Regions from separate parts of the Homo sapiens genome. Here regions 1 and 2 are each reported to be linked to region 3. Evidence: microRNA targets listed by miRTarBase, many of them from high-throughput screens and not tested one by one. Region 3 holds a microRNA gene; each other region holds the end of a gene's coding sequence.

Evidence for each region. Region 3 holds the annotated microRNA hsa-miR-6840-3p (GCCCAGGACUUUGUGCGGGGUG, at 1,279-1,300, shown strand). A microRNA usually pairs through its seed, bases 2 to 8, with sites in the 3' UTR of a target mRNA and lowers its output. Matches are read on the target gene's strand: a 7mer-m8 pairs with bases 2 to 8, a 7mer-A1 pairs with bases 2 to 7 and ends in A, and an 8mer does both.
Region 1: miRTarBase lists NUGGC as a target of hsa-miR-6840-3p. Seed matches in the 3' UTR shown: 7mer-m8 at 437-443 and 7mer-m8 at 754-760.
Region 2: the mRNA of ABCF1 is a reported target of hsa-miR-6840-3p. The part of its 3' UTR that is shown has no 7-base or 8-base seed match.

Annotation. Positions count from the first base shown.
Region 1 is chr8:28,020,680-28,023,751 of GRCh38, reverse strand. NUGGC (nuclear GTPase, germinal center associated) reads left to right here. Exons shown (of 19, transcript NM_001010906.2): 19 at 290-1,788. The coding sequence ends at 435. Among named protein-coding and RNA genes, the nearest start is that of SCARA5, 30 kb to the right of the region's middle.
Region 2 is chr6:30,590,320-30,593,391 of GRCh38, reverse strand. ABCF1 (ATP binding cassette subfamily F member 1) reads right to left here. Exons shown (of 25, transcript NM_001025091.2): 24 at 3,014-3,072; 25 at 1,870-2,857. The coding sequence ends at 2,691. Among named protein-coding and RNA genes, the nearest start is that of MIR877, 7.5 kb to the right of the region's middle.
Region 3 is chr7:100,355,418-100,358,524 of GRCh38, forward strand. MIR6840 (microRNA 6840) reads left to right here and starts at 1,234; the gene lies at 1,234-1,304. It overlaps PILRB (paired immunoglobin like type 2 receptor beta), which reads left to right and starts at 2,700. Exons shown (of 4, transcript NM_178238.4): 1 at 2,700-2,949. The coding sequence starts at 2,886. It overlaps STAG3L5P-PVRIG2P-PILRB (STAG3L5P-PVRIG2P-PILRB readthrough), which reads left to right. Exons shown (of 17, transcript NR_036570.1): 13 at 1,333-1,466; 14 at 2,803-2,949.

The DNA of each region.
Region 1 (3,072 bases), not on the chromosome of region 3:
TTATTGTGCAACATGCTTTGTATATCACACACCTGTGAAGCCTTAATACAGACCCAGTGACTTCTCAGGGTTTTTCTTATGGGTAGGTTTGGGTTTCTTTTGAGGGTGACCCCATGCTGAGAAAGCTTTCTGGTAAGAGGAGGAACACCTGCTTTGATGTCTGATCTGTAAGCACCACTCCAGATCTCATATTCTGGGACAAGTGACAGGATTGTTGGGGGATTTGCTTTCTGGAGACGTTTCTGCAACGGACACCAAGTCCTGATGTGAGCTTTCTGCTCTCCTGTAGATGTCGGGAGTGAATACAAGGAGATGGAGAAGCTGCACAGAAGCCTGAGGGAGGTCGCGGAGAATGCACGGCTGAGGAAGGGCATGCAAGAATTCCTCCTAAGGGCATCCCCCAGCAAGGCTGGCCCCCCCGGGACATCACTGTAACTCCTGGGGCTTAGTCCCAATGGATGAAAAATCAGCCCAGAGCCAGAGAATTAGAATTACTTTTTTTGTTCTTAAGAGACAAGATCTATCTACCTCTGTTGCCCAGGCTGGAGTGCAGTGGCACCATCACAGCTCACTGCAGCCTCGAACTCCTAGGCTCAAGCGATCCTCCAGCCTCAGCCTCCAGAGCAGCTGGGGCTACAGGTACAGGCCACCACACCTGGGTAATTTTTTTTTTTTTTTTTTTGAGACAGAGTCTCGCTGTGTCACCCAGGCTGGAATGCAGTGGTGCAATCTCGGCTCACTGCAACCTCCACCTCCTGGGTTCAAGAAATTCTCTGCCTCAGCCTCCCAAGTAGCTGGGATTATAGGCGACTGCCACCACACCCGGTTAATTTTTATATTTTTAGTAGAGACGGGGTTTCATCATCTTGGCCAGGCTGGTCCTGAACTCCTGACCTCGTGATCCACCCATCTCTGCCTCCCAAAGTGCTGGGATTACGGGCATGAGCCACCGTGCCCGGCCCATACCTGGGTAATTTTTTAATTTTTTGTGGAGATGGCATCTTGCTCTGTTGCCCAGGGTGGTCTCAAACTCCTGGCCTCAAGTGATTCTCTCCCACCTCAGTCTCTTGTGCTAGGATTGCAGGCATGAGCCATTGTGCCTGGCTCAGAATTCTTTCTGTTTTGTGAAATCTAATAGAGGACATTTCTCAACTATTTGGACTTTGCATGCAATATAAAACTAGTATGTTTACTGCATTTTATTTTATAGCCCCAAAGAGTCATCTTCAATACCTAATGGAGTTCTAAAGCTTTAGGGCAAGAAACTTTTGCTTCCGCAAAAACATCTAAACATCGCTGGGCATGGTGGCTCACTCCCGTAATCCCAGCACTTTGGGAGGCTGAGGCGGGCGGATCATGAGGTCAGGAGATTGAGACCATCCTGGCTAACACAGTGAAACCCCATCTCTACTAAAAATACAAAAAATTAGCCAGGCGTGGTAGCATGTGCCTATAGTCCCAGCTACTTGGGAGGCTGAGGCAGGAGAATCGCTTGAACCCAGGAGGCATAGGTTGCAGTGAGCCAAGGTCGCGCCACTGCACTCCAGCCTGGACGACGGAGTGAGACTATGTCTCAAAAAAAAAAAAAAAAAAAGAAAAAGAAAAAAATATATATATATACACACACACACCCATACATAAAAAAACTTAAACATTATAGAAAAAACATTGCACGATATAAAACAAGCCATAAAAAGAAATTCATCCTTCAATAAAGAAAAATATCTAAACGTTGAAAAACTTAAGTATTATGGAAAACATTGCAAAATAAAGCTTTTAGGAATCCAATTCTGTTTTTTATTTTAGTACTGATGAGACTTTGGGTAAGGAGGCAACATCGTATCCTGGAAACAAAATGGGTTTGGGAGCCAGATGAACATAGACCCGGCTTCATCACTTCTCAGATGTGTTATCTAAGGCCAGCACTTCCTAAACATTTTGATCTCAGGACTCTTCACTTTTAAAGGACGCTGAGGAGCCTTTGTTTATGTGGGTTATGTCTGATGATATTGACTATTCGAAATTAAATAGGAGAAAATGTAAGTAATTATTTACTAACTTTTTTAGAAGTAACAATAATAAACCCATTACGTGTTAACAAAAATAACCCATTGTTATGTAAAAAGCTATTTAAAAAAAAGGTACTGAGAAGAGTAACATTGTTTTACACTTTTGCAAATCTCTTTATTCCCTGGCTTAATAGAACACAGCTGGATTCTCATATCAGTTTCTTCATCTACTCTGTTGCAATATATTGTTTTGGTTGATGTATATGAAAAAAATTCAGTCTCACACAGATATACAGTTGGAATACAAGGAAGTATTTTAATAGCTTTTTCAGGTAATTTTGGGATATATTTTGATTCTACAAAGGCAGATGGCAGTTTCTTAAAAGTTAATTGTGGTGTGGATCTGAAAGCATTATCAGTGAACATTTTTCAAATGCTATTACATTAAAGTGCACTGGTTGATTTTGTACTTTGAATGATTTTTTTTACTAATGCATGATTTTGTGATATCAGGCATTGCTCATCTTGAAAATATTTATTCGCTGAGTTAAGCAAATATTCCAAGTGTTGATGCATTTTATTGTATACTACCATGAAATCATTTTGTTAGTGTCTTCACCAATCTCATCAGGAAAGTATTGCAGTATTGGGAAGCTGTCAAGCTCACAGTGAAAAATATGTTTTACAAAATTCCATCTCCCCCCCAAAAGCTCATCTTATCATTGATGACAAATGTTGTCAGTTGCTTTCTTTGAAGTGATAGATTCACTTTCCTCATTTTTAGGAAAGTGTTTACTATATAACTGTATATGATGAACTATAGTTTGTCAGTCATTATTTCAAATAAAAATGATGTTCCAAGAAAAAAGTGTCAAGTTCAGCCTGAAACTCAGACACTCAAGGAAATGCTTTTCTTTGCAGAAGTGCTTTAAGTGTATTTCCCATTTTGTCCCACAGAATAATAAAATGACATCTACATAGATGTCCATAATTAATACAATTAATAACATACTGTTTCATTTAGAACATTTTAAAGTCCAACTGGCTTTTTAAAAGCCCTGAA
Region 2 (3,072 bases), not on the chromosome of region 3:
TAATGGCTTGTCCAAGGTCACTGCCAAGACCCTGACTTTTCCCCCTCAAATTCCATAAGAGGCATGTTTCCTGATGTCTTTTGGTTTTTGTTTGAGACAGAGTCTCGCTCTGTTGCTCAGGCTGGAGTGCAGTGGCGCAACCTCGGCTCACTGCAACCACTGCCTCCCGGGTTCAAGCAATTCTCCTGCCTCAGCCTCCTGAGTAGCTGGGACTACAGGTGTGCACCACCACGCTCGGCTAATTTTTTTGTATTTTTAGTGGAGATGGGGTTTCAATATGTTGGTCAGGGTGCTCTCGAACTCCTGACCTCATGATCTGCCCGCCTCCCAAAGTGCTGGGATTACAGGCATGAGCCACCATGCCCGGCCTCCTTATTTTTAATTTAGAGTGTTCCCTGACTATGCAGCTATCTCCACACCAAAACTTCACTTCCTGTATGAAGCTTGTACTTGAAGTCCAGTATTATTTATTCACTTGGCTGGAAAACAATTTCCCCAAATTAAATGTCCAAACAGTTAAATCTTAGCCACACAGCTCTCCCTATTCCCTCTGGAACTGGATATATCTCCTGTCACTCCCTTCTCCCCAACCTCCACATCTGCTCTTTCCATCCCTATCTCCCCTAGCTAGTTTAGGATTCAGTTACCCCATTCCCGTAACAAAAGTTATGGGCTTCACCCTGCAGGTTTCTACAGCACGCCTTGCACATCACCACCTAATACCACTACCCACCATTTGCATTTTACTTTCCAAACCCATCTCCCCAGTCTAACTCTTAAGAAAAATGGCCACAGCAGCTATCATCCATTAACTCCCAAGTAGCTTGTTCTTCCCCCCAAGCCTGAGATCTGCTCTTTTCCTACTTCTGAAAAATGGCTCCCTGGTCCCTGATTAGTCAAATCATCATTTTTCAAGATCTACCCTCAAGTGACCCTGTCAAATAATCAGGCCCTGGATAATCTTTCCCTTTTTTGAGTATGTGGCAACTTAGAATCTAGAGTACGACATATTAGACAATTGATCAAATTAATTATCTATTCATGCTTACTTTTAAGTCTTCTCTAACCAGACTATTAATGAAGGCAGATCTTGTCTCTTCCCTTCTTATATACCCCACAGTACCGTACATTTTGGCTAGATGATTTAATAATTTTTGAGAGAATCAATACCCTGGTCCCTGGCCACAGGGCAGAGCACCTCCTCATTCATGAGATTAACTTGGACAATGAGACCCAAATTCTGGCTAGGCGTCGTGGCTCACGTCTATAATCCCAGCACCCCAGCACTTTGGGAGGTCGAGGTAGGAAGACTGCCTGAGGTCAGGAGTTCAGGACCAGCCTTAAGCAACATAGCAAGACACTGTCTCTACTAAAAATTAAAAAAAAAAAAATTAGTTGAGTGTGGCGGCACATGCCTGTAGTCCCAGCTACTCAGGAGGCTGAGGTGGAAGGATTGCTTGAGCCCAGGAGGTTGAGGGTACAGTGCACTCTAGCCTGGGCAACACAGCAAGACCCTGTCTCAGAAAAGAGAAAAAAAAAGAAGTTGGGCACAGTGGCTCATCCCTATAATCCCAGCACTTTAGGAAGTCAAGGTAGGTGAATTACTTGAGGTCAAGAGTTCGAGACCAGCCTGACCAACATGGTAAAACCCTGTCTCTATTAAAAACACTAAAATTAGCTGGGCCTGGTGGTGTGTGCCTGTAATCCCAGCTACTCGGGAGGCTGAGGCAGGAAAATTGCTTGAACCCAGGAGGTGGAGGCTGCAGTGAGCCAAGATCATGCCACTGCACTCCAGCCTGAGTGAAAGGGCAAGATTCTGTCAAAAAAAAAAAAAAAAAAAAAAAGGAAAGAGACCCATGTTCCAAGATAGAAGGTATGAATCACTTTGCTTTTTCCTTGCGTGAAGGGTTGGGGGAAAGGAATCCTATGATCCTTAAACAGCAAACACTGTCAGCAAGACTGCAAACAAGATCCATTTAGTGGGGAAGAGGGGACTATTAAAAGCTGCTAGAAAACTGAATAAAGCAAATCAAGACTGAGAACAGTTCCAACTCCCATCAATCTCCAAACAGTGACAGGTCGGCAGCAACTCCTTTCCTTTATTTCTTCCCCTTGTAAAGGGAAATTCAAGTTCAGCAGCATTCCTTTCCTGCCCCAAGTCCTCAACCAGACAAGAGGCTGCAGGCACCAAATCTTGGGCTGGATAATGGCAAAGGCCTCAGAAGCTCACCTCCAGCTCTGAGCTTCAACAGCTGTTTGTACCAGTGAGTCAGCATTAAATCCACCAGAAAAGAACAGCACCACCCAAAGACTGGGGGGCAGCTGGGCCTGAAGCTGTAGGGTAAATCAGAGGCAGGCTTCTGAGTGATGAGAGTCCTGAGACAATAGGCCACATAAACTTGGCTGGATGGAACCTCACAATAAGGTGGTCACCTCTTGTTTGTTTAGGGGGATGCCAAGGATAAGGCCAGCTCAGTTATATGAAGAGAAGCAGAACAAACAAGTCTTTCAGAGAAATGGATGCAATCAGAGTGGGATCCCGGTCACATCAAGGTCACACTCCACCTTCATGTGCCTGAATGGTTGCCAGGTCAGCTGCAGGCCAGAGGCAGTCTTCAGAGGAGGGGAGACCACAGAGGACTTCTAGGCCACACAAATATGTCTCTCGGGAGACTTCTGGGAAGGAAAGCTCACTCTCGGGGCCGGCTGACCATGACTTCACCCAGGGCCTCCAACACCTCCCGCTTGTAGTCTTCAAAGTCACCATCGATTTGGCTAACACTCTGCTCCTCCACCACCCACAGCTGGCAATTGGTTTCTGTGATGAGTCGGGCATCATGGCTGACAACGATCACAGCTTTGAAGAAAGATAGCAACAACAGAGGGCAGGAAGAAAGGAGAAAGAGGGGAATCAGAACATGAAATAAGGGAGTCCTAGGCCCTTCTGTAGTGAAGGACACTACAGCTTGGTCCCCATGGAGCAGGGATGAGGGCACACTCTCAGCTGACTTACCACCCTTGTATTCATTGATGGCCTCCCCTAGAGCATCAATAGACTCTATGTCCAGGTTA
Region 3 (3,107 bases):
CTGCTGGGCTAACGGGCTGGATTTAGACTCTGCCCATGTTGGAATCATGCCCTCCTCCAGGGCCGGTGCCTCCCAAAACCCCCCTCTGAGAGAGAGCCACAGCCCCAGGCTTAGCCCCAGGCCCTGTCACTGCTGTTGGGGGAGGGAGGATGAACCATCCGGGAGGCCTCACACCATTCCAGAGCAGAAATCCTGACACAAAAGGAATCTCCCATGGGGGTTCAGCTGGGTCCAGAGCCCGGAAAGTGACATAAACACGCACCTTGCATCTAAGGAGAATGCACGTGGCGGTACCGGGCCTGAGGCCCCTGGGGAGTATGTACCCTCCAGAGCTACCCAGAGGCTGTTGGCTAAAAGTTCTATGTGGCCCCCTCCTTGGGCAGCCTGGTAAGCAGGTGACCTTCTAGCTGGGTCCCATGGGCCACGGGCAAGGCAGGAATGGAACGAAGAGTCAGTCCTCAGTGGCTGGGTGTTGTATCCCATGCCTATAATCCCAGCACTTTGGGAGGCTGAGGTGGGCAGATCACTTGAGGCCAGGAGTTTGAGACCAGCCTGGCCAACATGGTGAAACCCTGTCTCTACTAAAAATATAAAAATTAGCTGGGTGTGGTGGCACACACCTGTAATTCCCAGCTACTTGGAAGGCTGAGGCAGGAGAATTACTTGAACCCAGGAAGCAGAGGTTACCGTGAGCCAAGATCACACCATTGCACTCCAGCCTGGGCAACACAGCGAGAATCCATCTCAAAAAAAAAAAACAAAAAGTCCTCAGGCAGGGTGGGCCACCCTCTTGAGGCCTTGCCCAAACAGCCAGGGGGTCCCTTGTCCTCTTTTCGGCCCACCTTTGCAGGTGGGACCAGTTCAGTCCAAAGCCCCGGTGCCTCAGTTTCCCTGTGGGTTGAACAAGGAGAATGAGGTGTATAGGGCCTGGCTCAGACGGAGGGGTTTCCTGAGCATGGGGAGCCTGTTTCCTCAGACCTGTGAAGGGAAGGAGGGTGGATCGGCCTGACTGGCCCTGGGAAGCACAGAGGAGCCTACTGGGACCAGGGAAGAGACTGACAAGAGAAGGGAGGCCTGTCCCTGCCTGCTTCTGTCTCAAGAAGATTGTTATCACTTCCTCTGGTGAAATCCTGCCTTCCTGTCCCCACGGCCCCTCAGCTGATGCCACCTTACTCTGGAGAGGATGGGCAGAGCCTCCTATGGAGGGAGCCCTGTGGGTCACCAAAGCTCCAGTGACCACCCCCGGGCAAAGACCTGCAGATCCCCTGTTAGAGACGGGCCCAGGACTTTGTGCGGGGTGCCCACTGTTGCTCTGAGCCTTCACTTCCTCAGGGAGGCTTCCTCAGGATCTCGAACCTGCGGAAGGAGGACCAGTCTGTGTACTTCTGCCAAGTCCAGCTGGACATACAGATCAGGGAGGCTGTCGTGGCAGTCCATCAAGGGGACCCACCTCACCATCACCCAGGGTGAGTCCAGCTGCCCTGGCACCAAGGAACCTTCCTGGTTCAGCCATAGGCTCAGGTGTGTGGAGGGAATGACCTGAGGGGCTGTATGAGGGAACAACCTCCTGGGGCTCCCCTATGCCTGAGTTCCTGCAACTCAGAAGTTGAGGCCCAGAGATCCAGGTAGAGGGGGCTCCAGTCCTGGGACTGCCCTGCAAGTCATGTGGCCTGGGACAGGGCTTCTCCAAGCTCTGTCCCCTCCTGTGTAGGGCAGGGAGGTCAGAGGGGACCCTGCAGATCCAGTCTCATGTCTGGGGGTCAAGGGGTGGCCTCGAGAGGGACCAGTCTCTGTGTAGGGGACCGTCAGCCCCCTCACCCCTTGAGCAAGACTGTGGTCCCTGCACCAAGGGAGCAGGCCTGGGGTGGGAAGAGGCCAGCTGGGCTGTGGTGGTGCCTGGGGACTGCATGGGAGCCCCTGCCAGGGAGGGAGAGGGACAGAGGACAAGCTGGGGGCTCTGGTGCTTGGGCTGGGGGCTGAGCGCCTGTGACCTCCACTGGCTTCCTCCTTCTCCTCTCTGAGGACTGAATCTGGGGTGCAGCAGAGCACAGACTCAGGCCCGCCTTTCCTCTCCCTGAAAGAGCCTGCGCTGGCCTTGGACAGAGAAAGGGATGAGAAGTGAGGCTGAGTGCGGTGGGGTCTGCAGGGATCCAGGTGGGAGGGGCCCAGCCAGCCAAGGTGAGGCCCAGCCCCTCAGCAGGAAGATGGGCACTGGGGCCCTTGGGCAGGGCTGACTTGACACTTTTGTGTGACTTGAGCCACTGTGCCCAGCCTGAACACCCTTTCCTGGTAAAACACTCCACAAACCAGGAAGAGAAGGAATGTACTGCAACAAAATAAAGGCCAGTCATGCAAGGCCCATGGCTGAAAGTCTTTCAGTCATTTTAGATGAAAGACTGAAATCTTTGCCTCCAAGATCAGGAACAAGAGAAGGATGCCCGCTCTCACTACTTCTATTCAACACAGGATTTGAAGTCAGGCCGGGCACAGTGGCTCACGCCTGTAATCCCAGCACTTTTGGAGGCTGAGGCGGGCAGATTACTTGAGCCTATGAGTGTGAGACCACCCTGGCCAACATGGCAAAACCCCATCTCTACTAAAAAAAAAAAAAAAAAAAGGATTTGAAGTCCTGGCCGGAGCAATTAGGCAAGGGATAAAAAGGCACCTAAGGCCCTTTTGCAATAAGAAGCCAGATGGATAAAGGAAGTGCTGGTCACCCTGGAGGTGTACTGGTTTGGGGAAGGTCCCCGGCCCCCACAGCCCTCTGGGGAGCCTCACCCTGGCTCTCCCCACTCACCTCAGCCCTCAGGCAGCCCCTCCACAGGGCCCCTCTCCTGCCTGGACAGCTCTGCTGGTCTCCCCGTCCCCTGGAGAAGAACAAGGCCATGGGTCGGCCCCTGCTGCTGCCCCTGCTGCTCCTGCTGCAGCCGCCAGCATTTCTGCAGCCTGGTGAGTACCCAGGACCGCCCAGGTATGGTCTCTGCCCAAACCACAGGAGGGGCCAACCCAAGACAAAGGCAGAACATCTGGGGCAGGGGCCAGGCTCCCACCTCCAGCAAACAAGGGCGGGTCCCATAGGGGTGGGTGCCGCCATCTCTTCCCCCTCC